Homo sapiens: one gene and its partners. The protein of the gene in region 1 purifies or fractionates together with the protein of each later gene. This does not show direct contact. Each region holds a gene or a part of one and is shown in the gene's direction. Other genes may lie near its edges. The genes, in order: OASL, HP1BP3, ZC3HAV1, RPF2, DDX27, ZNF326 and CALML5.

Region 1 (4,515 bases):
AATCAGAGGCTCCAGTAAGGTACATAGAGTATAAACGGGGGGACCCGCTGGCCAAATGAGGAGGCCCACCCATGGGCTGGAAAATATACGCCTCTGGATTTTTCCTGAATATAAAAGCCATTGTAGGCTGGGGGCAGTGGCGCACGCCTGTAATCACAGCACTTTGAGGGGCTGAGGCGGGTGGATCCCTTGAGCCCAACAGTTCAAGACCAGCCTAGGCAACATGGTGAAACCCCGTCTCTACTAAAAATACAAAACTTGGCCAGGTGCGGTGGCTCACATCTGTAATCCCAGCACTTTGGGAGGCCGAGGTGGGCAGATCACGAGGTCAAGAGATCGAAACCATCCTGGCCAACATGGTAAAACCTCATCTCTACTAAAAATACAAAAATTAGCTGGGTGTGGTGGCATGTGCCTGTAGTCCCAGCTACTAGGGAGGCTGAGGCAGGAGAATCGCTTGAACCTGGGAGGCGGAGGTTGCAGTGAGCCAAGATCGTGCCACTGCACTCTAGCCTGGCAACAGAGTGAGATTCCATCTGAAAAAAAAAAAAAAAAAAAAGAACAAAACTTAGCCAGATGTGGTGGCACGCACCTGTGGTCCCAGCTACTCAGGAAACTGAGGCGGGAGGATCGCTTCAGCTTGGGAGGTCAAGGCGCAGTGAGTTAAGATTGCACCACTGCACTGCAGCCTGAGGTGACAGGGCAAGGCCCTGTCTCAAAAAACAAAACAAACACACACAACATTGTGCAAATATTTTTTATCTTGGCTAGTCAGAAAACTTGGCAATGCCAGGCTTATATTTCTTTTTCTTTTTCTTTTTTTGTTTTCCTTTTGAGACAGAGTCTCCCTTTGTTGCCCAGGCTGGAGTGCAGTGGTGCGATCTCAGCTCACTGCAACCTCCACCTCCTGTGTTCAAGAGATTCTCCCACTTCAGCCTTCCGAGTAGCTGGGACTACAGGCATACGCCACCACACCCGGCTAATTTTTGCATTTTTTGGTAGAGATAGGTTTTGCCATGTTGGCCAGGCTGGTCTCAAACTCCTGACCTCAAGTGATCTGCCCGCCTTGGCCTCCCAAAGTGCTGGGAATACAGGCGTGAGCCACTGCACCCAGCCAAGGCTTATATTTCTTCTGGAAAGAATCAGCTAGAGGCCTGACCCTCGCCAGCATTTTCCAGGTGCTCTCCAGCCACCTGGGGCTCTCAGGCCCTGGAGTGTAGCCTCTGGAGGTGGTGAGAACACAGACTCTGGAGTCTGACCAACCTCACTTCACATATCTGCCCTGCTCCTTACTACCTATGTGATTGGTGTTCAGTAAATTACCTAACCCTGCTCAGTTTCCTCATCAATAACATGGGGGTAACAGTAGAACCAACCAACTAATAGAGATGCTCTGAGAATAAAATGCATTAAGGGTATGGAAGGTGCTCAGCATACAGCCTGGAAAGTGCTTACCACTCCCTAAACATTTGCTGCTGCCGCTGCTGCTGCTACTATTGTAAAGATAAGGACAGATGAAGGGAACATTTGCACATCAGACAAAGAAGTGTGGACTTAACACCTCTCCTTCTCCCTCTCCCTTCCAGAGGGCACGAGACATCCACTTGACAGTGGAGCAGAGGGGTTACCCAGATTTCAACCTCATCGTGAACCCTTATGAGCCCATAAGGAAGGTTAAAGAGAAAATCCGGAGGACCAGGGGCTACTCTGGCCTGCAGCGTCTGTCCTTCCAGGTTCCTGGCAGTGAGAGGCAGCTTCTCAGCAGCAGGTGCTCCTTAGCCAAATATGGGATCTTCTCCCACACTCACATCTATCTGCTGGAGACCATCCCCTCCGAGATCCAGGTCTTCGTGAAGAATCCTGATGGTGGGAGCTACGCCTATGCCATCAACCCCAACAGCTTCATCCTGGGTCTGAAGCAGCAGATTGAAGACCAGCAGGGGCTTCCTAAAAAGCAGCAGCAGCTGGAATTCCAAGGCCAAGTCCTGCAGGACTGGTTGGGTCTGGGGATCTATGGCATCCAAGACAGTGACACTCTCATCCTCTCGAAGAAGAAAGGAGAGGCTCTGTTTCCAGCCAGTTAGTTTTCTCTGGGAGACTTCTCTGTACATTTCTGCCATGTACTCCAGAACTCATCCTGTCAATCACTCTGTCCCATTGTCTACTGGGAAGGTCCCAGGTCTTCACCAGTTTTACAATGAGTTATCCCAGGCCAGACGTGGTAGCTCACACCTGTAATCCCAGAACTTTGGGAGGCCGAGGTGGGAGGAGCGCTTGAGCCGAGGAGTTCAAGACCAGCCTGGGTATCACAGGGAGACCCCGTCTCTACAAAATAAAAAAATAATTCACTGGGTGTGGTTGTGCACATTTGTAGTCTCAGGCACTCAAGAAGCTGAGGCAGAAGAATCACTTGAGCCCAGGAGGCTGAAGCTGCAGTGAGCTGTGATCACACCGCTACACTCCTGCCCAGGCCACAGAGCAAGACCCTGTGTCTAAAAACTAAAACATAAAAATAAGTAAATCCGTTTAAAAAAAGGATTATCCCAGCCCTGCCAGGGGGAGGATGAGGAGGGGTGTGAGGACTAAATATACAAATAAATAGTGTGGTCACATGACGCACAGCAACAGAATTCGGACCCACAGCCTTCTGCAGCAATCAACCCCAAACCATCAGGACTTGGGCGATAACTGGCAGCATCTCTAACTCCCCACCCTACTCCCATCCTGCTTCCTATTTATGACCAACCCAAGAAACCCAAATAAGCTCCCCAGACCAATCACATGGTTAGCCCCACTTCTGGTGAGTGCACTTCCAGCTTCCCCATACCAACAGCCTCAATCACGGCATCCCTGAAGCCTTCCCATTTTCCTGCCTGTCTTTAAATCTCTGTCAAAAGCGAGAGATGGGTGGCTGGTTCCTTTGCTATAGCAAGTTGGGAATAAATCGCCTTTGTTAGTTCTCATTTGGGGGCTGTTTATTTCCACAGGGCCTAATGCTGTCCTAATGGTTATTGCTTGATCATTTGAGCTTCTCAACTCTAAGAAATGAGGACTGGGGAAACTGAGGCAAAAAGAGACAAAGAATGGGAGATTGAGGATGATGCAGTGTAAAAAAAAATCACCTCAACTCCTAAAACCCATACACAAACAGTACATAATAGTCAGGAAACTGTAGGAAAGTAATAGCATCTTTATTATCAAAGGACGTCATGTGATCAGGTTTACTCCAAGCAATAAAAAGTTTCCTTTTGCCCCCCTGTTTTGCCTAGTTTTCTGGTGGGCTACTCTCCTACCATAGCATAGAAAATGCACACTGCAATTGGTTATCAACAGCCTCTGGTCAATTTAGCAATCATAATCTGTGTATCTCCCACCTCTGTTTGCCTTCAGGGACAGAAAAAGTGCCTCCTTTCCAGGAGGTAGACAGGCTGTTCCAGTCCCCATCTTTGTGTCCTTCATAATGCCCAGCACAGCCCACATTGTAGGTGGTGGGAAAATTCTTGTTTAAAATAAAAAAAAGAATGAAAAATGCAATGTCTTAGTCCATCTGGGCTGCTAAAACAAAATACCATACACTGGATGGCTCATGAACAATAACCATTTATTTCTTACAGCTCTGGAGGCTGGGAAGTCCAAGTCAAGACACTGGCAGATTTGGTGTCTGGTGAGGACCTCTTCCTGATTCACAGATGGCAGCTTCTCACTAAGTCTTCACATGGTAGAAGAGGCAAAGGTGTCTCTAGGATCGCTTCTTTTTTTTTTTTTTTTTTTTTTTGAGATGGAGTCTCGCTCTGTCACCCAGGCTAGAGTGCATTGGCATGATCTCAGCTCCCTGCAACCTCTGCCTCCGAGGTTCAAGCGATTCTCCTGCCTCAGCCTCCCGAGTAGCTGGGACTACAGGCACCTACCACTGTGCCCAGCTAATTTTTTTTTTATTTTTAGTAGAGACGGGGTTTCACCATCTTGGCCAGGCTAGTCTCGAACTCCTGACCTTGTGATCCACCTGTCTTGGCCTCCCACAGTGCTGGGATTACAGTTGTGAGCCACCATGCCTGGCCTCTGGGGTCTCTTTTATGAAGGCATTGATCCAGTTCATGAGGGCTCAGGACCCATTATGTAATTGAAAGATTCTCCGTGGGGCCTGAAAGCTTAAGAGAATGAATGACCCCTCCCTCCCCTCCCTCCTTGGGCCCGGTCCCAAGGCGCAAGGCCACTCGCGCCAGCAGCATGTGTCAGCAAGATAGCAGAAGCGGGAAGAGAGCGGGCCAGAAGACACCTACCCCCTGAAGACCGAGAGAGACGTCATCCGGGTACAATGTAGCGGTTACAACAGACTGAGAAACTTCCTGTTTACAGGAGACTACAAAACCCCTGCCCCGTCCTCATTTGGTGCTGACGCCATTTTAAGCCTCAGCCCACCTGCACACACACTGCCTCATGTTGTCTGTTGGCCACGCTCTTGGGGTTCGAACCAACACAAGACCCTTTCACTAATTACTTCCCAGAGGTCCCACC
Region 2 (3,500 bases), on another chromosome or scaffold:
ACCTTTTTAATTCATTTATAGTACCCAGTTTTTAAAGAAGATTTATTTTGTAAAATTTTGCTTATGGTACATGTCATCTTAGCCTGTAAATAAATTAAAGCATTAATTTTTATCCCTCCCTGGTCTTTTCCTCCTTCTGACTTTATACGTCTTTCTAGAGAGCTTATCTTCTATAATAACAATTCTTTGTTTTAAAGTGAGAAAGATCAGTCTAAAGAAAAGGAGAAGAAAGTGAAAAAAACAATTCCTTCCTGGGCTACCCTTTCTGCCAGCCAGCTAGCCAGGGCCCAGAAACAAACACCGATGGCTTCTTCCCCACGTCCCAAGATGGATGCAATCTTAACTGAGGCCATTAAGGCAAGTTTTTATTTCAAGCAATTCATCTTAGATTTATTATGTTCATTTTTTTCTTATTTGAAAATGGCATATATCTGTCTAGACATCATAAATCTTGTTCTGCTTCCTAAAGGAGTTTTAAAGAGAGGAAAGTCATTATAAGTTCATGTTTTTCTAATATAATCACATTTGGTGAACACTGTTAATTTTTTTAAAAAAATTATATTTAATATAGCAAATATTTTAACTTTAGAATTTTTAAATGCAGTTTATCGATTAAGTACAGTTTTTATTTGAAGGCTGAAAATGTTAATTCATTGAACAAACATTTAAGGACTACCTTCCTCTGTTGGGCGCCCCTGCTAGTGGTGAATTAACTAAGGCTAGCAAAGTCCTTGCCCTTATAAATCTAATTGTGACTCAGTAACTGAAAAATATTGAGAATTTTTGTTTAAAAAATATCTCTAGGTTCATTTCTAAAGCTAAGTGATCTTGGTAGTGGTTATCTTTCACACCTGAACCCTGTTAATAAACACTGCTTTATTACCTAGACATTCCAAAATGCTTACAAAAATTATCCTCCTTACATAGATTTATGATTTCATTGACTTTCATTAGATGTAGTTTTCCTATTTTAATTTTTAAAGGTTATCTTCTAATTTGACATTGCCTTTATTGTATAAGTCTTTTCATTTAATTTTGCCTTGTTTAGTTCATATGATCAGATGATAAGAGGAGTTAGAACAGACCCATCTTTCAGGGACCCTGTTGTTAGGATCTGAGGCAGGACTGGGGAGACAGGGATACAGATGATTTTAACCAGAAAAGGGGGGATGTGTACGAAAAGGAGCAGCCTGGTTGTCATTCTCAGAATATGAGAAGATAGCACTAACACATAAACTGGAAAAAGGGTTTGCCTTCAGACTTCTCCCTTTACTCCTTCAAGACTTCTTATGCTCTCACCTCATTAAGAAAACTTTATTGGTCTAGATTACCTCACTGTAGTGAAATCTCTGTTCTTTGTATAGCCTTTCTTCAAGGATTTCACTTGATGACCACTCAGCCTGGGTTTGAAGGAGCAGCATCATAGTGAGGATGGAAAAAGGGCTGAAACTTTAAAATAGTGAAATAAAAAATTAAAACAATATCAATTTGGCTTAAAGAATGGTTTGAATATAATTGTGCATATTTATGGAGATGATTGATTTTATATAGATAATGTGTATTCCATGCAATATGACAAATTATTGTTTCAGACCATGGATACCATTTTCTGTATTGAACAGGAATCATGATGTCTACTACCATCTCACTGTCGGATTGGTGGAGCAAAAGATTATTTGTTTCAGCATTAGTGTTCTTTTCTGCTTGATTTTCTTTGCTCTGTGTTTTCTTTTAAGATCAGGAGTAAACCTCAGTAGGTCATTAATAGTTCAGAGACATAGACTTGAATTACATGACCCATATTAATACAACTTGTTTCGTGTTGTGCAATCTTTTCTGGACCATCTACCTGTGAGTTATTTTTCTTTGTTGTCAAAATGTATAAAAACATTCAACGAAGTTCTTATCCAATGAGAATGAATAAGTGCTACATTGATTTAATAGACACTGTGGCAGTACAAAATTGATGGACTAGCTCATTAGATAAATGACAGATGCTACTTTTGTGTGTTTCAAAATTTAAAGTATTTGATTTCAAGTCAGTGACCAGTTGGAAAACAAAATTTTAAGCATTTGAAAAAAATTAAGTATTTGCTGCCTTTGTGACATAATGAGCTACTTAATTCTTCCAGGTGCATTAGTCAAATGGAGTATAAGTAAAATAGGATGGAAATGGAAGAGGGCACATTAAATTCAAATAGAACACCTTCACTATTACCCAAAACTCTCCTTCAGCACTTTGCCATCTGTAAACCCATTTTTATGCCACTTATTCAGATTATCTTTGATTCTTCTTTCTGCTGACATTCATACAGAGCCTTCAGGGAAATGTCCTGGCATGCTCATTCCTTAAGCTCGTGCCTTAAAATGGGACAGATCTGTGATCCTGTAAGTGATAGGTTTGTTCTGCTTTTCTCATTTTGATGCCAAAGATTCATCTTCTAAATACAGAATGGAATTAAAATGGAAAGAGGTTCTTCATTATACATAGAATGTTGTTCGTGTTCAGTATGGTCTCTTAGGCTGTTTTGAACAATTTAAAATTGTAGTAGAAATATTTAGTAATTCTGTTACTTCTCTGTAGTCATTATGAACTGAAGTCTTCTGAAGTTCATTCTTCCCTACCGTTTTTGTCATCTATCATCAAATTCACTTCCAAAATAATTTATTTTGAAAATATATGTCAGGCTCTATCTAATAAAAAAAAACAACTAGTTTAATAAATCTTTTCTAGGCATGCTTCCAGAAGAGTGGTGCATCAGTGGTTGCTATTCGAAAATACATCATCCATAAGTATCCTTCTCTGGAGCTGGAGAGAAGGGGTTATCTCCTTAAACAAGCACTGAAAAGAGAATTAAATAGAGGAGTCATCAAACAGGTATTACACAATTGTTAGTAGTAAGATCATTTCATTGTGTATTAGCTTTAAGTCTACAGTTAGTAACATTTAGGCTTTTTGTGCCTTTTTTGTTAAAAATAAGTTTCATGATGATGAAATTCCTTAAGTTTAACCTAGTTGAATTATCTGAGGCTAGGTTTCGAAAATGCTGGTGCCATTAAGATAGTGTAACTTTTTTCTAGCTTACTTTGCTCTTAATTGGATATTTTTTGGGGGGCTGCTTGTGCTTGAAATCATGTAGCACTGAACATGAAAAAGAGGTAAGGAATCCTACTACTGAAACAGCAAAAATGAGGCTAGGGATGGTGGCCTACACCTGTAGTCCCAGCACCTTGGGAGGCTTAGTTGGGAGGATCACTTGAGCCCAGGAGTTCGAGACCAGCCTGGGCAACATAGCAAGACCCCTTCTCTACAAAAAATACAAAATCAGCAGGGTTTGGTGACACATGCCTCTAGTCCCAGGTACTTGGAAGGCAGAGGCAGGAGGACCGCTTGAGCCTGGGAGGTTGAGGCTATTGTGAGTTACGATCTCACCACTCCAGCCTCGGTGAGAGTGAGACCCTGTCTGAAAACAAAAAGGAATAACAGAAATAATAATTGC
Region 3 (4,379 bases), on another chromosome or scaffold:
AACATGGTGTACAGATACCACTTTGAGACCCTGTTTTCAGTTCCTCGGGGGTATATAATCAGAAGTAGAATTGCTGGATCATATGGTAATTCTATGTTTAATTTTTGGAGGAACGATCATACCATTTTTTGTAGCAGCTGTGCCATTTTTCATTTCTGCCAGCAGTGCACATGGGTTCAAATTTCTCACATCCTCTATCATTTTGTGTTTTCTGATTTTTTTTTTTAATAATAGCCATCCTAAGGAGTATGAAGTGCTATTACTTTTTTTTTTCTTTCCTGTTTTGAGACAGAGTCTCACTCTGTCACCCAGGCTGGAGTTCAGTGGTGCGACCTCGGCTCACTGCAATGGCCGGCCGCCTCCTGGGTTCAAGTGATTCTTCTGCTTCAGTCTCCCAAGTAGCTGGGATTACAGGTGCCTGCCACCACTCCCAGCTAATTTTTGTATTTTTAGTAGAGACGGGTTTTCATCATGTTGGCCAGGCTGGTCTTGAACTCCTGACCTCAAGTGATCCACCCACCTTAGCCTCCCAAAGTGCTGGGATTACAGGCGTAAGCCACCATGCCCAGCCAAGTGCTGCTATTTCTGAAGCATTTTCATATTATATAATGGCATTCATTTTTAATGTCTTTATGAAGTGGATGTAGGAAAGATGAATTTTATGAAGCAGATAGAATACATGATTCTAGGATTCTGTGCAAATTAATGAACAATTAAACCTCCTTATATTTGGGAAATGGTTTATCATTTACAAGGGACTTTCATCCCAAATAAATATTTCATCATTGTTCCTCACAGTGAAACCACAAAGAAAGGTAGATATGTCATTTTTTAGCCTTACTTAAGAGGGTAAAGAAACTGAGGCTCAGAAATAGTAAGCAATGTTTATTGCAAGCAGCCTCAGCTCATTTTTAGAAGAATGAAGGATAATGTAATGAAGAAATAAAAGGTAACATTTTCAAGGCCTCACATCACTAGAAAGTAGCAGAGTGCATGTTCTGATCCCATATCTAATGCTTTTTCTCTCTCACTACAGTTCCCTCTGAACAGAGGAATGTCTGGAGGGATGGGTTTTGGTGGTAGCTTCTCAATGTAAACTTATTGTGAATGAGAAAGATCTGTATATATTTTCACTTCCAGTTAATCTCCTGAGTTAAGCCTTTTCTTGACAGGAGGAGGGTGTTTGCTTTTACTACATAACTACTGCCCCCTGGGTTTGGAAGAGAAAAAAAATGTCTCTTCTACCCCTTCCCCACACAAAAAAGCACAATTCACACACACACACGAGCACACATGCACACCTCACATTCACACACCACACGTGCACATGTGCCTCAAACACAGACATGCACATCTTCCACATGTACCCCCGGCACACAAACACACCCCACATAAACATCACGTGCATGCACGCCACACACACTCCACACGCGCTCACAAACACACCCTAACTCCTTCCTTCCTCCCTGCTTCCAGAAGGGTGTGACCTATCAAGTTTCTAGAGGAAGGCCAATTCCCTGCAGGCCACACTGCTTTGTCGATGTTGACTTCTGATATACTTTGGCCTTATGGAGTGAGATGAAGAAAACTGGAAAAATTTCCAGCTTAAACAAAGTCAGGCCTTTAGACTGTGGTTTCATTTTCTGTTGGTTTCTTTGAGCATTGTGAATCTGTCAATAGCCAGGTACACCCGTATCACGATATGGGCAAAATCGAATGCTTTCTGGAAAATCTTCTCTGATTTGCCCTAATCTATCTCTCCATTGACCCCAGTGATGAACGTTGACTCAGGACCAGGAGATAGTGGACAGCCCCACCTAAAAGTTTTGGGGTTTGGGGGCTACTTTGAGTCCCAGAAGAGAGCCGGGGACTGTCATCCTAGAGCTGATCCTCACTGTCATCCTAGGCCATGGAATGACGTGCTCTGCCGTGCAGGCAGAATGTCAAGATTCTTTCATCAGCTGACACAGTTGGTGAGCACCTGTAGTCTCAGCTACTCAGGAGGCTCAGGTGGGAGGATCGCTGGAGCCCAGGAGTTCGAGCTTGCAGTGAGCTGTGGTCGGGCCACTGCATTCCAGCCTGGGCAACAGAGCAACACTCCATCTCTTAAAACAAAAACAAAAACAAAAAAAACCGTCAGTGTCAAACCACCCATCTTCAAGATTTTTACACATCAGATTACGCCAAGTAATTTGATAGCACTTGGATAGCAAAGCTACAAAAGTGAAGAGGAGGAAGGGTGGTAGGAACTCAGTCACATTAACTCCAATGTTCATTATTTTGTTTCATTTTGGCTTTTTTTCCCCTTAGCTCCTTCTTCACATCGTAGAAACATGGCATATAGGGCTAGAAGCAAGAGTAGAGATCGGTTCTTTCAGGGCAGCCAAGAATTTCTTGCGTCTGCTTCAGCGTCTGCTGAGAGGTCCTGCACACCTAGTCCAGATCAGATCAGCCACAGGGCTTCCCTGGAGGACGCGCCTGTGGACGATCTCACCCGCAAGTTCACGTATCTGGGGAGTCAGGATCGCGCTCGGCCTCCCTCAGGCTCGTCCAAGGCTACTGATCTTGGAGGAACAAGTCAGGCCGGGACAAGCCAGAGGTTTTTAGAGAACGGCAGTCAAGAGGACCTCTTGCATGGAAATCCAGGCAGCACTTACCTTGCTTCCAATTCAACATCAGCCCCCAACTGGAAGAGCCTCACATCCTGGACGAATGACCAAGGCGCCAGGAGAAAGACTGTGTTTTCTCCCACGCTACCTGCCGCCCGCTCTTCTCTTGGCTCTCTGCAAACACCTGAAGCTGTGACCACCAGAAAGGGCACAGGCTTGCTTTCCTCAGACTACAGGATCATCAATGGCAAAAGTGGAACTCAGGACATCCAGCCTGGCCCTCTTTTTAATAATAATGCTGATGGAGTGGCCACAGATATAACTTCTACCAGATCCTTAAATTACAAAAGCACTAGCAGCGGTCACAGAGAAATATCATCACCTAGGATTCAGGATGCTGGACCTGCTTCCCGAGATGTCCAGGCCACTGGCAGAATCGCAGATGATGCTGACCCAAGAGTAGCACTTGTTAACGGTAAATACAAAGGGAAGACACTTTGGGCTAGTACATTTGTTCATGATATACCAAATGGCTCTAGTCAAGTAGTGGATAAAACTACTGATGTAGAAAAAACTGGTGCCACTGGTTTTGGCTTAACAATGGCAGTCAAGGCAGAAAAAGATATGTTACGTACTGGAAGTCAGAGTCTGAGGAACCTGGTCCCCACCACACCTGGGGAATCCACTGCCCCTGCACAAGTCAGCACTCTGCCTCAGTCACCTGCTGCCCTTTCCTCAAGCAACAGAGCTGCAGTCTGGGGGGCCCAAGGGCAGAACTGCACCCAGGTTCCTGTTTCCTCTGCCAGCGAGCTCACAAGGAAGACAACAGGCTCTGCTCAGTGTAAGTCACTGAAGGACAAAGGGGCCTCTGTGTCTTGAGTCTGCAGCAGAGTGGCTATGGCTGGTGGTTTTTCCTTGGATGTTCCCCAGTTCTTAAAGGGTAGAGAGTTAGAGGGTTTTGGTTATGGGGTGGTCTGGTGAGGAGATTGACTAGTGAAGACAGGGAAGGGCCAACCAGTAGAACCACAGGGAATAAACTGCCACATTTATTGACAATAGGAATATTTCAACTATGATTTAAGAAATAAACATAGCTTTCACAGGACTCTGAGGTCCACATTTTTGTTTTATGGAGGGGCTGTCTAGATGCTCATGGGCAAAACATAAATCATAGGAATTTTCTTGAACATGGCCCCCATTTCAGATATTCTTTCCCATTGTGAGACCAAGTGCTTTGATTTTTGGTTTAAACATTAAGATCAGCATACATGCATCCTTTTTTGTTTCATAGATTCTTTATCTGATGTCACAAGTACCACATCTTCTAGGGTGGATGATCATGACTCAGAGGAAATTTGTCTTGACCATCTGTGTAAGGGTTGTCCGCTTAATGGTGAGTAACCTAAGGACTTTTCTGTAAGCTTCCACCTTTTGGCCATTGTAAATAACACTGCTATGAACATGGGTGTGCAAATGCCTTCTGAAAACCCTGCTTTCAATTCTTTTGGATATATACCCAGAAGTGGAGTTGGGGGATCATATAGTACTTCTATGTTTAATTTTTTTTTTTGAGGAACTATTATTCATAGTGGCTATACCATTTTTCTTTCCCACCAGCAATGCACAAGCGTTCAAATTTCTCCACATCCTCACCAACACTTGTTCTTTTTGTGTGTGTTTGTTTGCCTTTTTTGTTTGTTTGTTTTGAGACGGAGTCTCACTCTGTCACCCAGGATGGAGTGCAGTGGTGTAATCTCAGCTCACTGCAAC
Region 4 (4,379 bases), on another chromosome or scaffold:
TTGGGAGGCTGAGATGGGAGGATCACCTGAGCCCTGGAGTTTCAGGCTGCAGTAAGCTTTAATCACGCCATTGCACTCCAGCCTGGGCAACAGAGTGAGACCCTGTCTCAAAAATAAATAAATAAAATAAAATGAATGATTATTTGTGGATAGGTAGAACTAGGAAAAAAATGAAGAACATTGAATAATAGGCATTTTTTAAAGAGCTGTGTTTAACCTCTGGCTAGTATTCTAATTGTCATCATTATTACTGTTTCTAAGTTTTCTGATCTCCACGCAACATTATTTCAATCTGTCAGCCTTTCGTGATAGAATTTATTTTTTCTGTTTTTGTCTACTACTTTTTTTTTTTTTTTTTCTGAGACAGGGTCTCACTCTATCACCAGAGCTGGAGTGCAGTGGTGCAATCACGGTTCACCACAGCCTCGAATTCCTGAGCTCGGGTGATCCTCCCGCCTTAGCCTCCCAAGTAGCTGGGACTGCAGGCATGCACCACTATGCCTGGCTAATTTTTGCAGTTTTTTGTAGAGACAGGGTTTTGCCATGTTGCCCAGGCTGGTCTCGAACTCCTGGGCTTGAGTGATCTGCCTTGTCCTCCCAAAGTGTTGGGATTACAGGCGTGAGCCACTGCACCTGGAATTGTTTCCCTAGAGAGAGACTGGACTAAGTCGAGTTTAAAGAAATGAAGGAAATTGTTTAAGTTGGATAGACTATTGACAGGGCATAGAAACTTTTAAATAGGAAAGTCTAGTCCAAGAATATTAAGCTTACATTTCAAGTTACTGTAAGTGATGAAAAGGGAGCCAGGCAGAAGCCCTCAGAATAAGATTGAGGCCCCAGAGCAATCTTGGAGAGTGACTGTTATGATGCTTTATTTTTATTTCTGCTTTTCAGAATGTGTTTTGTTTTGAAAGCTATAAATTTTGTTTTACAGTATGCACTGAAAAAACCATACGGTGTACTATATAAAAAGTAAGTCATGATTTCTTTTACTGTATTTTAAATGATTTTGTTTCATTATAAAAGTAACCACTTTATGGAAGATTTGGAAAACAAAAACTTTTTAAAAAGATATTAAAATTCCTTACAGTTATTAATATTTTAATTTCTTTCTTTTGGTCTGTTTTTTTCATTTGTATTGAATGTCCTTGCATAGTTGTAACCATAGCATATATATTTTATTTTGAAATACAGATTTACAGAAAAGTGCAAAAATAATGCAGAATTCCCATATACCCTTCACCTGGCTTCCCCTAATGTTACATCTTGCATAACCGTAATGCAATGATCAAAACTAATAAATTAACACCGATTCACTCATGTTAATCAAATGACAGACATATTTGATTAGCACCAGTTTTTCTTTTTTCCTTCTTTTGAGACGGAGTCCTGTTGTCGCCCGGCTGGAGTGCAGTGGCATGATCTCTGCTCACTACAACCTCTAACTCTGGGTTCAAGCAATTCTTCTGCCTTGGCCTCCCATGTAGCTAGGATTATAGGCACGTGCCACCACGCCTGGCTAATTTTTGTGTGGTTTTTTTTTTTTTTTTTGAGACGGAGTCTAGCTTTGTTGCCAGGCTGGAGTGCAGTGGCATGATCTCGCCTCGCTGCAACCTCTGACTCCCTGGTTCAAGTGATTCTCCTGCCTCAGCCTCCTGAGTTGGGATTACAGGCATGCACCTCCATGCCCAGCTCATTTTTGTATTTTTAATAGAGACAGGGTTTCACCATGTTGGCCAGGCTGGTCTTAAACTTCTGACTTTAGGTGATCTGCGCGCCTTGGCCTCCCGAAGTGATGGGATTACAGGCGTGAGCCACCCCGCCCGGCCCAGTTTCTTTTTTCTTTCTTTTCTTTTTTTTTTAAGACGGAGTTTCACTCTTGTTGCCCAGGCTGGAGTGCAGTGGCATGATCTAAGGTCACTGCAACACCTGCCTCCTGGGTTCAAGCAATTCTCTTGCCTCAACCTCCCGAGTAACTGGGATTACGGGCATGCGCCACCACGCCCGGCTAATTTTGTATTTTTAGTAGAGACGGGATTTCTCCATGTTGGTCAGGCTGGTCTCGAACTCCCGACCTCAGGTGACCTGCCCACCTCGGCCTCCCAAAGTGCTGGGATTACAGGCGTGAGCCACCGTGCCCGGCCCTAGTTTTCCTTTTAATACTCTTTTTCTCTTCAGGATCCCATGTTGCATTTAGTTTTCATGCCTCCTTAGTCTTCTCCAATTTGTGACAGTTCCTTAGTCTTTCATTGTCTTTGATGACCTTGACATTTTTGACAAGTACTTGTCAGTTATTTTGTAAATTATCCCTCAATTTGGGTTTAAATTTTCTCATGAATTGATTGAGGTTATGCATGTTTGTCAAGAACACTACAAAAATGTTGTGCTTTCCTCATATATTCTTCTGGATTATAATCCAGTGTTCTTAATTTTGTTGCTTAAATTGTTCTGTTTGGCAATTGGGAACCCCCCCCCCCCCCACCTTTTCTTTTGTTTGTTTTTTTAGTATGAGACGGAGTCTCACTCTTTCACCCAGCCTGGAGTGCAGTGGTGCGACCTCAGCTCACCACAACCTCTGGCTCCTGGGTTCAAGCGATTCTCCTGCCTCAGCCTCCTGAGTAGCTGGGATTACAGGTGCCCAGCTAATTTTTGTATTTTTAGTAGAGACAGGGTTTCACCATGTTGGCCAGGCTGGTCTCAGACTCCTGACCTCAGGTGATCCACCAGCTTCAGCCTCTCAAAGTGCTGGGATTACAGGCGTGAGCCACTGCTCCCAGCTGGGAACTCTTTTACGTTGGTTCCTATGACCTTTCAACATGCCTCCTGTTTTTGAGCACTTCCTTACTTTCTAACATCACAAAATTATCTGGGTTCATCTTGTCTTTTTCCTTACCACAGCCCTGGAATAAGCTACAGTCATCCCTCAGTATCTGTGGGCGATGGGTTCCAGAAACCTCCCCTTATTAAAATCTGGGTATGCTCGTCTCTTACATAAAATGGCCTAGTATTTGCATATAACCCACACACTTCCTCCTGTATCCTTTTTTTAAAAAATGCTTCCCATAAAAGTAAGTTGCATATACTTTAAATCATCTCTCGATTACTTATAATATCTAATATAATGTAAATGCTATGTAAATAGTTATAATGCTGTATTTTCTGGTTTATCCTGCTTTTTATTGTTCCTTTTTCTTTTTATTTCTTAACTTTTTTTTTAGAGACGGGGTCTCACTGTTACCCAGGCTGGAGTGCAGTGGCACGATCATATTTCACTGTTGTAAGCCACTGTGCTCGGCGCCCCCTGCTTTTTTTTTTTTTTTTAACACACTTTCTTTGTCTATTGAATACTGTCAATCCGTGGTTGGTCAAATCAATCCATGGATGCAGAAGGATGCAGAATCCATATGTACAGAGGACTACTTATTTTCCACGAGCCTATAAACTCCATGAAAGCAAGCATCTTGTTTAATGTAGTAGTATAGTATCACTAGCTCCTAGAATGGTAGCCTGGCATATAACAGGCACTGAATAAATATTTGAATGAATGAATATCCTTTCAATTGTTTTATCATCTGAATATAAAATTACCTTAATATATTAATTGTATATACTTATTTAGATTATTAAAATTGTCACTTTTTTGATATTCTTAGGAAAAATATTACAAGACCTTTTGAGGATCAGACATCACTGGTAAGTATAATAATCTTTATGATTTAAGAAAGCATATAAGTAGTAATTATTCAGACTAATTCATTTGTACTCCAAATTTGTGATTTTTTTAAACATTAGAAGTCATCCTGTGTGAGGGAATTTTGTGTAAAATGGAGAGGAAATACTTTAAAAAATATCTATAGAGCTTTCATTTCACTATGGCTGGGAAATGTGTTTTTCATTGCCTGCAAATATATTGATAAAATTTTTAAAACTTGGCCGGGCGCGGTGGCTCACGCCTGTAATCCTAGCACTTTGGGAGGCCAAGGCAGGTGGATCACCTGAGATTGGGAGTTCAAGACCAGCCTGACCAACATGGAGAAACCCCGTCTCTACTAAAAATACAAAAAAAATTAGCCGGGCGTGATGGCACATGCCTGTAATCCCAGCTACTAAGGCGGCTGAGGCAGGATAGTCACTTGACCCCGGGAGGCAGAGGTTTCAGTGAGCCGAGATCACGCCATTGCACTCCAGCCTGGGCAACAAGGGTGAAACTCCGGCTCAAAAAAAAAAATATTTAAAACTTGAGTTGCATTTAAAGGACATAATGAATTTTCAAAAGGAAGTTTGTTATAGATCTATTTTTATAAAGCAAGTTTGAGTTTTAAAAATATGACTCTTCCTTCAGATGTTTTTACTTTTTTTTTTTTTTTGAAGCTTGGGTC
Region 5 (4,379 bases), on another chromosome or scaffold:
CAGCAGCTGGGACTACAGGCACACGCTGCCACGCCCTGCTAATTTTTTGTATTTTTAGTAGAGATGGGGTTTCACCGTGTTAGCCAGGATGGTCTCGATCTCCTGACCTCGTGATCCGCCCGCCTCAGCCTCCCAAAGTGCTGGGACTACAGGCGTGAGCCACCGCGCCCGGCCGAGAACTCTCTTAAGCAATGAGTTCCATCGTGTCCCTCCTCTTCTTCTCTGAGTCCTTCAGTACTTCCCAGTCTCACTCTTCTTAGAAGCCTGAGTCCTTATATTGACCTACAAGGCTCTGCCCCTTCTGGCCCTCTCTGACGACACCTCCTGGCACTCGTTCTGCTCTGGCCACACTGGCCTCCTTGCTGGCCCTCAAATAGGTTAGGCCTCCTCTTCCTCAGGGCCCTTGCACTTTCTGTTCCCTCTGCCTGGAAAACTCTTCCAGAAATCTTTTGGGGTGCTCTCTAGCTTCCTTCAGGGTTCAACTCAGTATCCCTTGCTCAGTGAGACCTTCCCTGGCAGCCCTACCGTGAATAGCACTCCCCCTGCTGCCCGTCTGGCCGCTGCATTGTTTTCCGCAGCATCTCTCCATATGACATGTGTTTGTTTTTTGGTCTGTTTCTACCAGACTGTAAGATTCCTGAGGGCAGGGTTTTTATTTCTTTTATTTACTGCTGTGTCCTCAGTGTCTAGAGCACCACCTCACACATAGTAGGCGTTCAGTGAATGTTTGTGGAACGAATGATTGGTGGGGATTGGTGTGGTCCCCACTTGTCTGGAAACCTGCCCTGTTTGTGTTGTGCTGAGACTTCCCCCGCTCAACCCTGTCTGACCCAGTTCTTTTTTCCTCAGGCCATTACAGCCATGGGCTTCAAGCAGCCCACCCCGATCCAGAAGGCGTGCATACCTGTGGGTCTATTGGGGAAGGACATCTGTGCCTGTGCAGCCACTGGGACAGGTGAAAAGGATAGGGACCCAGGGTGGGCAGAAGGGTGTTACGGCCAGGGCTGGGCTCTAGGTTGACTTACCAAAGGCTGGTTTGCTAAATAAATATTCTTGGTTTTTTGAACTATTTCATTTTTATTTTTTATTTTGTAGAGATAGGGGTCTCACTTTGTTGTCCAGGCTGGTCTTGAATTCCTAGGTTCAGGTTCAAGCGATCGATTTTCCCATCTTGGCCTCCCAAAGTTCTGGGATTACAGGCATGAGCCACTGTGCCTGGCCATAAAATTTTTGTAACACAAAAAAGATATACTGGTGCAATTGAGAGAGTAAAGGACTTTTTTTTTTTTTTTTTTTTTTTGAGACGGAGTCTCGCTCTGTCGCCCAGGCTGGAGTGCAGTGGCGGGATCTCGGCTCACTGCAAGCTCCGCCTCCCGGGTTCACGCCATTCTCCTGCCTCAGCCTCCCAAGTAGCTGGGACTACAGGCGCCCGCCACTACGCCCGGCTAATTTTTTGTATTTTTAGTAGAGACGGGGTTTCACCGTTTTAGCCGGGATGGTCTTGATCTCCTGACCTCGTGATCCGCCCGCCTTGGCCTCCCAAAGTGCTGGGATTACAGGCGTGAGCCACCGCGCCCGGCCGAGAGTAAAGGACTTTTAAATTTTTAACCACTTTATTTTGAAGTATTTGTAGATCAGTGGCAAGTTGCAAAAATAGTGCATAGGGTCTCTCGAATCCTTCATCAATGGTGACATCCCACATAACTGTAGGACAAAATCAAAACCAGGAAATTGGCACTGATACAACAGTGTTTCCTAGACTGCAGAGCTTACTCAGTTTACTGAAGGATTAATTTTTTGTTTTGAGATGGAGTCTCACTCTGTCACCCAGGCTGGAGTGCGGTGGCGCAATCTCGGCTCACTGCAACCTCTGCCTCCTGTGTTCAGGTGATTCTCCTGCCTCAGCCTCCCCAGTAGCTGGGTTTACAGGTGCCCGCCACCACACCCGGCTGATTTTTGTATTTTTAGTAGAGAGAGGGTTTCACCATGTTGGCCAGGCTGGTCTCGAATTCCTGACCTCAAGTGATACACCTGCCTCAGCCTCTCAAGAGTGCTGGGATTTACAGGTGTGAGCCACCGTGCCTGGCATACTGAAGGATTAATTTTGTAAGATAAACAGTGCATGAGAGGATGTCCGGTCTAGTAGTGGGCCACAAGTTTCAAAGGGTCTGATGAAGGTCATTTTCATTTAATCCTCTTGGGGTATCCCTGATCTCTGTGACCATGGCCTCCTGGCCCTGCCATATCAGAGGAGGAAATTTTTTTTTTTTTTTTTTTTGAGACAGAGTCTCGCTCTGTTGCCCAGGCTGGAGTGCAGTGGCGCAATCTTGGCTCACTGCAACCTCCGCCTCCCGGGTTCAAGCGATTCTCCTGCCTCAGCCTCCTGAGTAGCTGGGATTACAGATACACGCCACCATGCCCGGCTAATTTTTGTATTTTTAGTAGAGACAGGGTTTTACTATCTTGGCCAGGCTGGTCTTGAACCCCTGACCTCATGATCCACCTGCCTCAGCCTCCCAAAGTGCTGGGATTACAGGCATGAGCCACTGTGCCTGGCTGTATTTTTTCTTTTTTTTTTTGAGACAGAGTTTTGCTGTTGTCACCCAGGCTAGAGTGCAGTGGTGCGTTCTCAGCTCACTGCAACCTCTGCCTTCAAGTGAATCTCCTTCCTCAGCCTCCTGAGTAGCTGGGATTACAGGTGCCCACCACCAAGCCTGGCTAATTTTTATATATTTAGTAGAGACAGGATTTCACCATATTGGCCAGGCTGGTCTCGAACTCCTGACCTCAGGTGATTCGCCTGCCTTGGCCTCACAAAGTGCTGGGATTACAGGCTCCCGCCACCATGCCCAGCTAAGTTTTTTGTATTTTTAGTAGAATTGGGGCTTCACTATGTTGGCCAGGCTGGTCTTGAACTCCTGACCTCAGGTGATCCGCCTGCCTCGGCGTCCCAAAGTGCTGGGATTACATATGTGAGCCTGACCATGTGATTTGAAAGCAGAAAAAATATTCTATGAAAAATAAGTTCCTTTATTTTCCCCAACCAGACGTAGTTTTTCTGTGCTCTGGTGAAAACCTAACCCTGGAGGGAGCTAAACTTCTTCTCATTGCTTCCTTGCTGTCCCTCCCTCCAGGTAAAACTGCCGCCTTTGCCCTGCCTGTTTTGGAGCGTCTGATTTATAAACCCCGCCAGGCTCCAGTCACCCGCGTGCTGGTGCTAGTGCCCACCCGAGAGCTGGGCATCCAGGTGCACTCTGTCACCAGACAGCTGGCCCAGTTCTGCAACATCACCACCTGCCTGGCTGTGGGTGAGTTTCTGGCCAAGGGCTGCCAGCCCCTGAGAGACTGTGGTGGGGTGGAGGATGGATGTGCCCCGCCATCTGTTGGTGTTGGTGACAGGTGCCAGGAGAGGCCTTTGTGTTGATTGAATCCACTTAAAAACTGGAAGACTTTTTTTTTTTTTTTTTTTTTTGAGACGGAGGAGTCTCGCTCTGTCGCCCAGGCTGGAGTGCAGTGGCGCAATCTTGGCTCACTGCAAGCTCCGCCTCCCGGGTTCACGCCATTCTCCTGCCTCAGCCTCCCCAGTAGCTGGGACTACCGCCACCACGCCTGGCTAATTTTTTGTATTTTTAGTAGAGACAGGTTTTCACCGTGTTAGCCAGGATAGTCTCGATCTCCTGACCTCGTGATCCGCCTGCCTTGGCCTCCCAAAGTGCTGGAATTACAGGCATGAGCCACCGCACCCAGCCGACATGTTTTCATAGTGCTTTAGGTGGGTGGGATTTGATTGAGACTTAACCAACCTTCACAAATGAAACCTGAAAACTATGAACATTTTTTTCGTGGTACTGAACAAATTTGGGGTATAATTTCTGCTCTGTGAGAATAATGAATCAAATATTACTTTGGGCAGCGTTTTTCCAATGAAGTTATATGATAGTGTTATCTAGCCTGCATTTTGCCCTCCTTGTGCTATTGGAAGTCAGAAGTGATCTTTGTCTCCCTGTAACAGACACCTCATCACTTTCCTCAGCTGCTTCTCTTAGTCCTTGAATGTTTCAGGCATTCTCTTTTTTTTTTTTTTTTGAGAGGAAGTCTCACTCTGTTGCCCAGGTGGGAATGCAATGGCATGATCTTGGCTCACTGCAACCTCCACCTCCTGGGTTCAAGTGATTCTCCCACTGCTTTCCAAGTAGCTGGAATTATAGGTGTGCACCACCATGCACAGCTAATTTATGTATTTTTAATAGAGATGGGGTTTCGCCATGTTGGGTAGGCTGGTCTCGAATTCCTGACCTGAGGTGATCCACCTGCCTTGGCCTCCCAAAGTGCTGGGATTGATTACAGGCATGAGCCACCTCGCCCAGCCCATGCATTCT
Region 6 (3,803 bases), on another chromosome or scaffold:
CAGAGTATATGTGCAGAGCATATAATGCAGAGCATACAAATAGGGGCCATCGAAGTGTGGCAATGCCCTAGGTATATTGTGATTACCACAAGGAGCTTTATTCCTCATACTTAGAAAACAAGCACACAAAGAAAAATCTGCCAGCTGTCTATTTCCCAATTTTCCTTCTGACTGTTCCTTTCTCCTTCCTCACACAATTAAAATGCTAGGTTTCCTGTAATCGCAATCTTCAGGGAATTTTTCACTCAAGCCCAGAAAATAAACTCCAGATAATGATACTGAGAAATTTATTGGTTGGAAAACTGCTATCTACAGGCCTTCCACTACCTATTTCTTAGTAGATTTTACATTTTTAAAGGGTTGTAGAACACCAAAACAATATATGACAGATACTGTGTTTGGGCCTTAAAGCCTACCCTTTATATAAAAAGTTTGTTGACTCCTAGGCTCTCATTTGCAAGTAGACAAATGAGAAACAGCAAATATTTAAGGAAAAGAGCAACATGAAAAATACACAGCAAACTTAACAAGCAGAAAGAATTCCTGGGGAAACAATTCAGGGGGAAAAAATGACCAAGTATAATTAGTATTATATGGAATAATAATTACTACTACTTATAATAGTTTCATATGTAATCCTCATCATATTATATGTCATAATCTTCAAATATTTTAGAGGTTATTGTACTAATTTTAAAAATGCAAGTTGCTATAAAGAAGTATCTTGGAAATAAACAGTTGTGAAAATAAACTCTGTTTTAGGCTGATTAGTTGAATAAACATGGCTGAGAATCAAATTACTGAGCTAGAATTTTGAGCTGAAGATACTTCCAGAGCTTACAAGAAAAGATAAAAAAGATGGAAGTTACAGTAAAAGACATAGATGTATCTCTTAAAGACATAGAAAACCCAGAACACCATCTGTTTAAAAATTAAACTTCATGAGATTAAGAGCCATATGTATAGAGAATTCACCATTGAATACCCTGCATATATCACAGTGCCAGGTAAATACTATGCAATAAATATTTTTGAATGTATGTATGTATGTTACAGTATAAATATATAGAGGAGTTCCAGAAAGTGAAAAAAGAAGTGAAGAATAGGAAAAAAAAAAAAATCTTCTGATGAAAGATTCATATTAGAAGTCTCCAGTGCTGAGCAAAAACAATGAAAAAGTCATGCAGGATGAATACTGACAAAATATGTGTAATCCCAAGCTTAGAAAAATCTCAAAATGTCTAAAGAGAAACAGTGTACCTATAAGGGGAAAAGAATCACATTGGTCTCAGACTTGTCATCTGTTCGTTGGAGTGCTACAACATACTGCTATTTTTGAAGTTCTGAGGGAGAACTGTTTTGAATTTAGACTTCTATCTTGAGTGAAACTGTCAAGAGTAAGGGCACAGCAAGGACATTCTACCAATTTTAGAACATGCAAGGATTTCAGAAATTAACTCATAAAACACAACCTGCACGGCATGGTATCAAATTATGTAAAGAAAAACTTGGTAAACAAGAAATTGTCAAATTTATAATCATAGCTACGTATTTGAACACAGCGCTTAGAAATTGTCAGATAAAGAGTTCAAAATAGAGGAAACATTTTGAATTATATAGTGCACAAATTTTAATAGCTATAGAATATTTGTTTTCAAATGCCATGAAAAAATGACCATGAAGCAAAAACCACAATATTTTTTTGTTTGTTGATAGGTAGGAATTCAGGGTCCATCCTGTCATCACAATGCAATGAAACAAAAAATTAGCAAGTGGATAGCAATAAATCAATTTTTAAAAATCAGACAAAAGAAAACACTGTCCTTGTAATGCTTGCATTTAAAAGGAAATAAAAACTTATGAAAGAGAATCTTTATTTTATTTAAGCAGTTCTAGATTATACAAAATGTTGAAACATCTCAATTTGGTCTCTGAGGCTAGCATAATCCTTATTCCAGAAAATTGTTCATCAAAGATAGCTATAGACCAGTCTCACTTACGAACAAATGTAATTTGTTGAAACTGGTCATGTTGAAAAAACATGACCAATTAAATATCCCAAAATAATGTGTCATGGTAGAGTAGGGTTTATCTGAAAACTGCAACATGACGATTATGTAACTCAATCCTTTAGGAAATTTATTACTTTAACTTAAAAAAAAATACCATAAGCTTGATAGATGCTCGAAAAACATTTCCTAAGATTGAACACATTCCAGATTTAAATTTTTCAGGCTGAGAATAGAATAAAGCCTTTGTAACTTGGCTAAGGACTAGGAAGGTCTTCCAGAAAGCTTCATCAAACATCTGCATTCAAGTCAGGATTAAGACAATAATGACTGTTGCCTATGCAACAATCATTTAACCCTAAGAAATAGAAGTATTAGGAAGAGAAAACATAGTCCTTATTTTGAGCAGTGTGATTGTAGAGACAAACATCCAAGAGAAACAGTTGAAAAACTATTAGAAATGACAAAAGGTAGTTTTGTTTAATAGTTCACCATGAAAATCTGTACTATATAGAAAATCTGTATATAGAATATAGCATTGGCCAATTGGAAATGTAATTTGAAAATCCCATTTGCAGCAAAACTTGGAACTGTATACTGTCTAAGAATAAACAATGGGAAAAATGCAAAATCCTTATGAGGAAAATGATACATTTTAATGGAGGAAATAAAATGCCTGAATAAACACTGTGTTCCTGTCTGAAAAATATTGTCTGTATGCCAGTTATCTTCAGATAATTCATAAATTACCATTCCAATTGTTACTTAGAGTTAGTAGTGGTGGCGAGAGAAAGTTAAAAATACCAGCTTCAGGAATATTGAAGTGTCTTTCTCATATATATAAGTTCAGATAGACAAGGCAGGGCTGGTGTCACCCTTCAAGGTGTCAGAGACTGAGGCTCCCTCTATCTTGTTACTTTGCTGTCTTTAAAACCTTATCTTTGGCCGGGCGTGGTGGCTCATGCCTGTAATCCCAGCACTTTGGGAGGCCAAGGCGGGCAGATCATGAGATCAGGACATCGAGACCATTCTGGCTAACACGGTGAAACCCCGTCTCTACTAAAAATACAAAAAATTAGCTGGGCGTGGTGGCGGGCGCCTGTAGTCCCAGCTACTCGGGAGGCTGAGGTAGAATGGTGTGAACCCGGGAGGCAGAGCTTGCAGTGAGCCGAGATCATGCCACTGCACTCCAGACTGGGCGATAGAGGGAGACACCATCTCAAAGCAAACAAACAAGCAAACAAACAAACCTTATGTTCAGTCATCCTGTGTATATTCCAGCCAATGGAGAGGGAGAAAAGGACTGTTCCCAGAAATTGTACCTACTTTTCTACATGAATCTCATTGCTTAAAGCAGCCACATGAATACAACTAGCTTCCAGGATGGGAATTGTGTTTATTCTATATGGCCATGTTCCTAGGCAAAAAAGCAGGGTTTCTATTAGAGAAAAAGGGGAGAATGGATGTTAGCATATATTAGTGTATTACTAGAAGTATATACCACTTAAGTTTATTCAGAAACTCATATGCAAAGTAAATAACCAAGAAATTTGTTTTACATGAGGAATATTTGACTTACATTTCTTACTACGAACATACAACAAAACTACAATAAGTATATCAAAGATAAATACATCGGTGAAACATTAAAGAAACAAACTCAAGTAATATGTAGATACATAGTTATATGTTAAAATCATGGGTAAAAGCCCAGGCACAGTGGCTCATGCCTGTAATCCTAGCACTTTAGGAGGCCAAGGCAGGCAGATCACTTGAGGTCAAGAGTTTGAGACC
Region 7 (3,419 bases), on another chromosome or scaffold:
AAAATCTTCAAGCTATCTTTATAAAATGAGTTAGACAACTGGGACACTGCTCTCTGCATCTCTCTGTCTATGCTGGGTCCCCCTGAACTCCGGTGGGGTGACCCCCTTCCTTCCCTCTCCCTGCTGACCATGACCTTCCCTTTTGTACCTGGTCCACGGAGCTCCCTCTCTGCAGACCTCAGCCTCTCCCTCTGCTGTGGTGCTTCCGAGCCCTTTGCACCTCCCTCTGGCCCCTCACATGCAGCTCAGGGAGCAGCTGCCACACTAGGGCTGGCTGGGGCATCTTCCCTCCTCTCACTGCTCTGCCTGGTTTGCCCCTTGTGTGGTCCTGGGGGACTGAGCTGTGGGTCATGGAGTGCGTGGTTGGGCACCCCAGCCTCCGGCTTCCCTTGGAGAATGTGTGCAGCACCAAGGGGCTGGGAGGTGTTTGTCTGGCTGCACTTTAGGGAAGGAGAGGGCACTTGGTCTATTTGATGGGCTGAACAGGAGGGAGGTGGAATGTATAAACTTTCCCAGGGGAATAAAGGAGTTTGTTCCCTGTGTACGGGCAGGGGCTGGGGAGAAGAATGGGAATCTATGGAGATCAGAGGGGACTTGCTTGGGAAAGGCATTTTGGGGACTCCAAGGCAAATGTCCCCTCACAACTGTAGATCACATCAGTGGAAGGACTTGGGGATGGTCCCCCGAAAGCTTAGCTGTTGCTCTAAAAGTTGGTCAAGGCAAGTGGCCCTGGGGGTTTCCTTCCAGAGAACAGATCAGATTGAGGACCCCAGTAGGCTCCCAGATGGGTCTCTGTGCTTAGGGCTGATGCTTAGTAAAACCACAAGGAGGGCCAAGTTTGATGGCAGCCACCTGTTCTGCATCCTCCTGCACCTCTGCCTGCACCTTTGGGGTATGCTGGGCACTGAGGTCCCCCGTGTCTCGCTGCAGCAAAACTCCAGCTGTAACTGTTTGACGCCCTGTGAATGGAACGCCTGCCACTGAGCTCCCAGGGTGTCTGCACAGGGAACCTTGGACTTGGCGATGGAATTGAATTGTAGGAATCCCTGAGCTAGAAGGGAGTATTCTGGGGAGACAAAAAGTCTTTCCCTCTCCTCTGAAACTGCACGTCACATGTTCACTTGATAAACACCATCTCAGCACCAGCTATGGCTCTGAAGGCAGCCCTGGTCCCTTGCTTCCTTGAAGTTATAGGCAGTGAGCCCCATCCTCTGTCTCTAGACCCTGGCCTGGGAATCTCATGATACCCACAGTTGTGCCCTGGCAGAATCAACACTACCACCCACTTCCCTTCCACCAGCCCCAGCCTCAGGGCAAGAGCTAGGCAGTAGCACTGGAGAGAGGGGTACGGAAACACCAAACACTGGGGCCTGCTGTGCCCTTGAGGGAGCCCTCTTCAAGCCACCTCCCCCTCCAGTCTCAGTCTTTGTGAAGTTGCAGAAGCTGTCTTGAACCCCTTGGCTTGGTCAGGATCTCCGAGAATCAGCTGCAGGGGAAACTATCCCTTGGGCAGAATGTTCCTGGAGGGAGGTGGTTGCTATCAAGGCCAGGCGGGGTTGGCAGGCTAGCCATCCGATACCCCGACCCCATGGCAGTTCCCACCTGGCACCTGACAGCTCTCCCAACTCCCATTCCTGCATTTCCTGTCTGCAGCTGATCTGGCCCTCCCTGGGAGGAGGCTCTCACCCCAGGGCATTTGGAGGGTGGGGAGCCTCCCTCCTCCCTTTGTTCCGATTGCAGAAAAGGAGGGGGTTCCCATGCCAAGGCAGAACTGTCTGGGACAGACGCTGCCCGGATCCCTGCGGCTGCCTGCACTCTGGACCACGAGCTCTGAGAGCAGCAGGTTGAGGGCCGGTGGGCAGCAGCTCGGAGGCTCCGCGAGGTGCAGGAGACGCAGGCATGGCCGGTGAGCTGACTCCTGAGGAGGAGGCCCAGTACAAAAAGGCTTTCTCCGCGGTTGACACGGATGGAAACGGCACCATCAATGCCCAGGAGCTGGGCGCGGCGCTGAAGGCCACGGGCAAGAACCTCTCGGAGGCCCAGCTAAGGAAACTCATCTCCGAGGTTGACAGCGACGGCGACGGCGAAATCAGCTTCCAGGAGTTCCTGACGGCGGCGAAGAAGGCCAGGGCCGGCCTGGAGGACCTGCAGGTCGCCTTCCGCGCCTTCGACCAGGATGGCGACGGCCACATCACCGTGGACGAGCTCAGGCGGGCCATGGCGGGGCTGGGGCAGCCGCTGCCGCAGGAGGAGCTGGACGCCATGATCCGCGAGGCCGACGTGGACCAGGACGGGCGGGTGAACTACGAGGAGTTCGCGAGGATGCTCGCCCAGGAGTGAGGCTCCCCGCCTGTGTCCCCCTGGCTGCGCTCTGAGCCTTCAGGGCCACCGCCCGCTGCTGCTTTTGTGCTGGGACTCTCCGGGGAAACCTGGTCGGTGGATGGGAAACTGCCTCCCCCTGGGAGGAAGGCTTTGCGCTCCGGGGCCTGGATGCGGCGCCCTCGGGCCGCCTGCGAGCCCCTCTCTGCCTCCAGACCTTGGGCAGAAGGAGGCCTCCTTGGGCCTGGTCCCCCTTTGCCCTGCAGTGGAATGAGGGCCCCTCAGCCCCGCATTGATCTAAATAAAGGACTGCCGAGTTCCATGTGTGCTTGGTGTTTGTGGGGCGGCTGCCTCCGAGGGCCCCCACCTGCTTCCAGGGTTCCTTCCAGCCCACCCCTCTCACCTGCGGTGGCAGAACTGCCTGGAGCAGGCCCCAGGGGCAGCTCCTGCCTCCCCTGACGCGGAGCAGAGGGCAGGTGGGCAGAGGATGTGTGAGGATGGTGCTGGGCGGTGTCTGTGGCTCCAGGTTCTGCCTGAGCTGCTGGTGAGGACCTGGGCACGTGTCCCGCACAAACAGGAGCGGGCGCCTCGCATGGACAGACGGAGCCCAGCTGCCAGCCTCTGCACGCAGCCTGCCTCTCTTCGGCTGCAAATAATATACGTGTACGTCTGTGTGTGCATCTGTGTGTGTGTCTGTGTGTCTGTATGCGTGTCTCTGTATGTGTGCATCTGTGTGTAAGTCTCTGTATGTTTGTGTGTCTGTGTGTCCTTGTGTGCATCTGCATGTGTATGTGTGTATCTGTGTGTGTGTCTGAGTGTGTCTCTGTGTCTATGTGTCTGTGTGTGTCCATTTGTGTGTGTGTCTTATCTGTGTGTCTGTGTCTGTGTGTGGCTTTGTGTGTGTATCTGTGTGTGTGTGTCTCTGTGTCTATGTGTCTGTGTGTGTTTATCTGTGTGTGTCTGTGTCTGTGTGTGTGTCTGTGTATGTGTTTGTGTGTGTCTGTGTGCCTATCTGTGTGTGTGTGTCTCTGTGTCTATGTGTCTGTGTGTGTTTATCTGTGTGTGTCTGTGTGTGTCTGTGTATGTGTTTGTGTGTGTCT

What was found.
Region 2: the proteins of OASL (region 1) and HP1BP3 purify together in Homo sapiens (affinity purification with mass spectrometry; one large-scale study listed by BioGRID and IntAct). This does not show direct contact.
Region 3: the proteins of OASL (region 1) and ZC3HAV1 purify together in Homo sapiens (affinity purification with mass spectrometry; 2 studies listed by BioGRID and IntAct, with this or other methods). This does not show direct contact.
Region 4: the proteins of OASL (region 1) and RPF2 purify together in Homo sapiens (affinity purification with mass spectrometry; 2 studies listed by BioGRID and IntAct, with this or other methods). This does not show direct contact.
Region 5: the proteins of OASL (region 1) and DDX27 purify together in Homo sapiens (affinity purification with mass spectrometry; 2 studies listed by BioGRID and IntAct, with this or other methods). This does not show direct contact.
Region 6: the proteins of OASL (region 1) and ZNF326 purify together in Homo sapiens (affinity purification with mass spectrometry; one large-scale study listed by BioGRID and IntAct). This does not show direct contact.
Region 7: the proteins of OASL (region 1) and CALML5 purify together in Homo sapiens (affinity purification with mass spectrometry; one large-scale study listed by BioGRID and IntAct). This does not show direct contact.

What each region holds. Positions count from the first base shown.
Region 1 is NC_000012.12:121,018,130-121,022,644, reverse strand, and holds the end of OASL (2'-5'-oligoadenylate synthase-like protein), read left to right. Parts: intron 1-1,586; coding exon 1,587-2,084; 3' UTR 2,085-3,534; downstream 3,535-4,515.
Region 2 is NC_000001.11:20,770,308-20,773,807, reverse strand, and holds part of HP1BP3 (heterochromatin protein 1-binding protein 3), read left to right. Parts: intron 1-197; coding exon 198-357; intron 358-2,734; coding exon 2,735-2,878; intron 2,879-3,500. UniProt on the Homo sapiens protein: Component of heterochromatin that maintains heterochromatin integrity during G1/S progression and regulates the duration of G1 phase to critically influence cell proliferative capacity.
Region 3 is NC_000007.14:139,078,175-139,082,553, reverse strand, and holds part of ZC3HAV1 (zinc finger CCCH-type antiviral protein 1), read left to right. Parts: intron 1-2,310; coding exon 2,311-3,084; coding exon of another isoform or gene 3,085-3,450; intron 3,451-3,900; coding exon 3,901-4,002; intron 4,003-4,379.
Region 4 is NC_000006.12:110,988,094-110,992,472, forward strand, and holds part of RPF2 (ribosome production factor 2 homolog), read left to right. Parts: intron 1-934; coding exon 935-972; intron 973-3,653; coding exon 3,654-3,693; intron 3,694-4,379. UniProt on the Homo sapiens protein: Involved in ribosomal large subunit assembly. May regulate the localization of the 5S RNP/5S ribonucleoprotein particle to the nucleolus.
Region 5 is NC_000020.11:49,225,581-49,229,959, forward strand, and holds part of DDX27 (probable ATP-dependent RNA helicase DDX27), read left to right. Parts: intron 1-849; coding exon 850-955; intron 956-3,134; coding exon 3,135-3,308; intron 3,309-4,379. UniProt on the Homo sapiens protein: Probable ATP-dependent RNA helicase. Component of the nucleolar ribosomal RNA (rRNA) processing machinery that regulates 3' end formation of ribosomal 47S rRNA.
Region 6 is NC_000001.11:90,032,838-90,036,640, forward strand, and holds the end of ZNF326 (DBIRD complex subunit ZNF326), read left to right. Parts: 3' UTR 1-2,696; downstream 2,697-3,803. UniProt on the Homo sapiens protein: Core component of the DBIRD complex, a multiprotein complex that acts at the interface between core mRNP particles and RNA polymerase II (RNAPII) and integrates transcript elongation with the regulation of alternative splicing: the DBIRD complex affects local transcript elongation rates and alternative splicing of a large set of exons embedded in (A + T)-rich DNA regions.
Region 7 is NC_000010.11:5,497,919-5,501,337, reverse strand, and holds CALML5 (calmodulin-like protein 5), read left to right. Parts: upstream 1-1,767; 5' UTR 1,768-1,899; coding exon 1,900-2,340; 3' UTR 2,341-2,641; downstream 2,642-3,419. UniProt on the Homo sapiens protein: Binds calcium. May be involved in terminal differentiation of keratinocytes.